Linked DNA regions of Homo sapiens: region 2 is linked to region 1. Evidence: fine-mapped expression QTL. Tissue or cell type: prefrontal cortex. Region 1 holds a variant in brackets; the other region holds the start of a gene. All regions are shown on one strand. Distances are between the middles of the regions.

The links. PIP is the estimated chance that this variant, and not a neighbour inherited with it, causes the effect.
Region 2: it holds the start of ITGA8, and the variant in region 1 is the best candidate, but not a certain one, in a credible set for the expression of ITGA8 in prefrontal cortex (ROSMAP, PIP 0.67).

Annotation. Positions count from the first base shown.
Region 1 is chr10:15,656,319-15,659,231 of GRCh38, reverse strand. It overlaps ITGA8 (integrin subunit alpha 8), which reads left to right. Exons shown (of 30, transcript NM_003638.3): 10 at 177-233. Among named protein-coding and RNA genes, the nearest start is that of ITGA8, 62 kb to the left of the region's middle. The variant G/AAAAAG (reference allele first, on the strand shown) is at 1,723.
Region 2 is chr10:15,718,243-15,721,155 of GRCh38, reverse strand. It overlaps ITGA8 (integrin subunit alpha 8), which reads left to right and starts at 1,234. Exons shown (of 30, transcript NM_003638.3): 1 at 1,234-1,593; 2 at 2,257-2,390. The coding sequence starts at 1,385.

The DNA of each region.
Region 1 (2,913 bases):
TAATCGGCTTTTTTTTTTTAAATAAGATCATTCCGTGGGCTTTCATTTTTGTTTTACATTTAGCTAACCATTTATCACACTTTACAAAAAATTTTAAATGATTCAAGTTGTAGTTTTTAAAAAAGGCTCCAATTCTATGGCAAATGGTGTAACCTGTTTAATTTCTGTGATTTCAGGTTTCCATCATTAACTCTACGGATATGACGTTTATTCAGAATTTCACGGGAGAACAGGTAGAGACATTTTAATATCAAATAAATAAAATCACTCTGGGTTACCAGTAGACTATAATATTCATATCAGTTATTCATCCATTTGACAAATATTTAATGAGCAGCTACTACGTACTGGAAACTGTCCTAGGCACCGGGGATGCAATCATGCATCAGACAGACAGATCCCATCCAGCTCTCAGGCAGCAGTGAGGTGGCAGGGGAGGGAGAGGAAGGGACAGTTTATTAACAAGCAAATAAATGTCCATGATAATTTCAGATTGTGAACCATGATTTAAAGAAAATAAAGCTGAGTGATATAAGACAGGAGGGAAGTGGCAAGGAAGCCTTTGGATGGGGTGATCAGGAGGCCTCTGAGGTGCCAATGTCTGGGCTGAGATGTGAATGACAAGACAGAGCCAACTATACCATCTTATCCAGAACCTTCCAGGCAAGGGAAGGCTAACAAGAAGGCTTTCAAACAAGAACCAGCCAGACATGTGTGAAGAGCAGAGTGAAGGCCACAGTCTCTGTAAGCAAGAGAGATGTAGGAGCTGAGGACGGAGGGGACAGGGGCTACTCATGGGAGACTGGTGGGGGAGGTGGGCGGTGTTTGGGATTAAGAATTTTTTTCTAAGAACAATGGGAAGTGGTTTCGTATTAACATGAATCTTTCAATAGTCTATAAAGGCCTGAAGGTTTTGATGTAAGATATGGGAAGAAGGTCACTGTAAAAAGGGCCTGGACTTCTGCAGCTGACAGATTAGACTTCCAGTTCCCACCGCACCGCTCATGAACTGTGTGAGACCACAGGAAAATCATCTGACCTCTTTGAGCCACTTGGCAAAATAAGAATAAAATGTTTATCTTCCAAGCTCCCTTTAAGAATGAAATAAATCAAGGATTGTAGATTACTTAGAAGATTCCCTGGCACATAACAACTCCTCAAGAAATGTTAATTCCTTTCCATCCCATTTCCTGTCTCCTGCCTTTTGATCAAACAAAAGCCACTAAATTCCCATGTGCCATTAAATCTTCTATAATTTGAGATGCATGCGAATACGTGTGCTTATGATGATCATAAACTATTGCATCTCTATTTCAGTAAGATATAGATTCAGGCCTCCATGTTTGAATGCAGGACAAATTTAAAATAAATGAATTCCTTGTGTTTGTAACTTATATGTGACTATTTACAAACAGAACTACGCACTTAATTTTAAACTAAATATGAACAAAGCTGTGGAAGTAATACATTTAAAACTAACCATGTTAATTAAATTTGAAGAGGAGAGAAAAATCGATTGCCTGGAGAAACAAATTCAGTTCACAACTGGCTTCCTTTAGACGGAAGCACCAACTCAGTATTTAAAGAAATGTGGCTCATACCTGTAATCCCAGGAGTTTGGAAGGCCAAGGCAGGAGGATCACTTGAGGCCTGGAGCTCATGACCAGCCTGGGCAACATAGTGAGACCACTGTCTCTGTTAAAAAAAAAAAAAAAAAAAAAT[G/AAAAAG]AAAGAAAAGAAAAAGAAACCAGCAGGTTTTAAAATAAACAAAATGATTTTGACATCTTTTTGCTGTAATTTGGGGCTTTAGTCTATTACTCTGAAATTTTCAGCGAAGCATTTTATATCTCCTGATATTCTTTTGGAAGGTTTGGAGAAATAAGACTGAGATGAGCGGGAAGTTGAATAGATATTGAACTGTTTGAAACAACTATTCCTAAGTGGTGGTAATTAATAAGTGAATGAGAATCTAGCAATGCTTCTCCTTTGCTCAGATCTGTTTACTTTTCATCATTAGAAACTTTTTAAACATTGCTAAATTTAGTCTTTCTATAACTTCCTCTCCTCAATACCACCTAGTTCTGTAATCCTGAACCTCAGAAGGTGATAAATGATGAAATTTCATAAATGATGAAATTCCTCTGAGTAAAGGCCACACACCACCACATCAAGAGAAAGAATTTCACTATCTATGTTTGGAACAGAGAAAAGAGGTGTGAGAATTGAGTTGTTACATGCCACTTGTTAACTCATGTATTCATTTTCTCTGCAAAGAGCATTTGGCACCTGGCACCTACTTTGGTCCAGACACTGCTCAGAAAGTTCAGATAGAACAGCAAACAAAACAGACCAAAGTCTCTGCCTCCTGGGGCGTGTGCTTTCTAAGGGATTGCATGTTCATTAAATGAGGACACGATGGAAGCTACGTCACTTCAAACATTGCATGGCACACTATGGAAGCAAACTGGCAACCTGAAACTATGGGTCAAATCTGGTGAGAGCATAAATCCTGAAAAGATTATAAATCCAAAAACATAGGTTTAAAAAGAAAAACTGCAGCGATAAAATGGGGAGAGGCCAGGTGCGGGGGATCACACCTGTAATCCCAGCACTTTGGGAGGCCGAGTGGGTGGATCACCTGAGGTCAGGAATTCAAGACCAGCCTGGACAACATGGTGAAACCTCATCTCTACTAAAAATAGAAAAATTAGCTGGGCATGGTGGCAGGTACCTGTAATCCCAGTTACTCAGGAGGCTGAGGCAGGAGAATTGCCTGAATCCAGGAGGTGGAGGTTGCAGTGAGCCAAGATCACACCACTGCACTCCAGCCTGGGCAACAGAGCGAGACTTCATCTCAAAAAATAAATAAATAAATAAATAAAAAAGTGGGGAGACTATGGTACACTGTGTACACTCATG
Region 2 (2,913 bases), 62 kb before region 1:
TTCTACCCCCGCAGAAAGTAAACTGTAAATTCCAACATTCTTAACTGCGCCAAACTTCATCACAATTACACAGGATGGAGATTTACTACTAAGTCATTTAATATGCCCAAGATGCCTTTAAGAAAGATTTAAATAAAATCTCAAGGGCTGGGCAAGGCGGCTTACCCTGAAATCCCAGCACTGTGGGAGGCTTAGGTGGGAGGATCGCTTGAGTCCAGGAGTTCAAGACCATGTTGAACAACATGGTGAGACCCCCATCTCCTTAAAAAAAAAAAAAAAAAAAAAAAGAAGAAGAAGAAGAAGGAGAAAGAAAGAGAAACAAAGAAAGAAAAGAAATTTTAAAAGTCAACTCGAGGTGGCAGGACGGCTTGAGGCCAGGAGATCGAGACCAGCCTAGGCCACATGAGCAGACTCAGTGTCAACAAAAAAAAATTAGAAAATTAACCAGGTGTGATGTGTCATCTGCAGTACCAGCTAATCAGGAGGCTGAGGCAGGAGGATCGCTCGAGCCCAGGAGTTTGAGATTTCATTGATCTATGATAGCACCATTGCACTCCAGCTTGGGCGAGAGAGAGACCCTATCTCTAAAAAGAAAAAAAAAATAAATAAAACAAAGCAAACCAACCAAACAAACAAAAACAAAAAATTCACACATGCACACACACAGGCGCGCGCGCACACACACACACACACACAGACACCCAACAACAAAAACAAAAAAAAACCCTCGAGGCTTTCTTGTATATGAGTTAGCTCTGCCAGGAGGTGGGGTGGACTTAGGGGAGGAGAGGGTTGTTGCATTTCAACTTTAACTCTCATCACAGACGTGCAAAGCCGTGAACGCTGAGGTCAGGCTGCAGAGGTGATGAAGAGATAATTGCTTTGCCCCTCCTGGTGGTGGGGTTGGTTTTCACATTCTCCATCCAAGCTGCGCCTTTGACACAACTGGAGCAAGCTCTCGCTCCACCTGGGGCATTGCTTCTAAAGCAATAAATAGCTTGAGGTGACAGAGACGAAACTGATTGTCCTTGAGATGGGACTGCAATAGAAATCCGGGCAGCCCGAAGAGGCACCCAGCGCTCCAGCCACCAGCTGGGCCGCCCGGGAGTCCCTGGCTCTAGACCAGCCGCGAGGAGGCGCCGCGAGAGAGCTGGTCCCTGCCCGCGGCCGGAGGAGGGCTAGAGCCCCTGGGCCAGCCCCCCGAGCCGGCTGGGCGGGCGGGCGGGTGGGAGCAGACGCCGGGCACTGTCACCACGGGTGCGCCGAGCGCACCGACCCGGGACACGGGCAGCTGGGGACCGCCAGATTCCACCAGCCCCCCTTGCCCCGCAGGGGTCCTCGGCTCGCGCTCCTGGGTAGCAGCCACCCACCGGGGCGGAGGGAGATGTCGCCCGGGGCCAGCCGCGGTCCCCGGGGAAGCCAGGCGCCGCTGATCGCGCCCCTCTGCTGCGCCGCGGCCGCGCTGGGGATGTTGCTGTGGTCCCCCGCCTGTCAGGCGTTCAACCTGGACGTGGAAAAGCTCACAGTGTACAGCGGCCCCAAGGGCAGCTACTTCGGCTACGCCGTGGACTTCCACATACCCGACGCCCGCACGTAAGTCGCCCGACCCGGGGAGGTGCGCGCGGGGACGAAGGCGCTCCCGGGTCAGGTCCCAGCGGCTCTGCCGCGGAGTCCCCCCGCAGCCTGGGATCCCCGTCCTGCCGCCTGCCCGGGGTCCCGTCCCTCTCCCCGCCACCAGCCCCTTCTCTCCCCTGCCATGCTAGATGTGCCTTGTGAATTTTGAGCTAGAGACATGCCACTTGCATAGAACACGCAAGTCCTGGGTGTTCCAGGTACCAAGACGCACGCATCCTACAAAGGAGAGAACAGGACCCAGAAGACCCAAGCCAGTTAAAACCGCCACCACAGCGAGGTCTGTTTATGCAGAGTCTGTAACCATTGCGTCTGGGCGCAAGAGCTGTCGGCTACCAGCAGCTGGGCTCTGTCCTTGGCTTCCTCCTACCCCACCCCCTTCTCTCATCTCACTGTACCCACAGAGCTCCACCTAGAGAAGCAGGACCGTTTGCATTCTTGCAAACCAGGTTGCGGACCCCCGTTTCCAAGAGGAAATCAAGTTTGACAGTCGGTCCTCATCATAAATACGTTCATGCCCTCCACGCCTGCCCCAGTGTCCCCGGGCAGGAGGTTACAGAGACTGCATTGCATGCGCACGGTTTTGTGGCGCCCAAAGAGTGACTTTCTCCAACTCTTTTGCAGAGCGAGTGTCTTGGTGGGGGCGCCCAAAGCCAACACCAGCCAGCCCGATATCGTGGAAGGGGGAGCCGTCTATTACTGTCCTTGGCCCGCGGAGGGGTCTGCGCAGTGCAGGCAGATACCGTTTGACACCACCAGTAAGTGAGATTTGTCCTTCTAAGCTGTGGGCCTGGGTTTGGAAGAACCAGGGCCATCCCAGAGGCGACTTCCCGCTGTCTTGGTGTGCTGCTCGTTTAGCTTGTCTGATATGTCCGTATTGTGGGCTATGTGGGTCTCTAGAGAAATCAGTTTTTTCAACTCTCAGTTAACTGAAGGAAGACGTTTAGTGAACCCTAGAGAAAGGACACTATTTTGACCCTGAGTGTTCGGATGCATCCTGGCAACTCCTGTTTCTTTACCTTTCTGAGATGAGCATTTTCAGGGTGAGTGGATGTTTTGGAGAAATACAAAAACTATGTCCTAACTTTGACTGTGGAGAGAATTTGGTTGCTTCTCAAGGACAGATCTGGAAAAAGAGAGATCCTTAGCGTTTCCAGTGCCCAAGCTCGGGAGGCAGGACTTAGCTGCTGCAGACCCAGACATCACTCCGCGTTGCTGTTTAATTCTTTACAGAAAGAAAGAATTTTCTTTCAAAGTATTAGACATTGAATGCAAACTAGT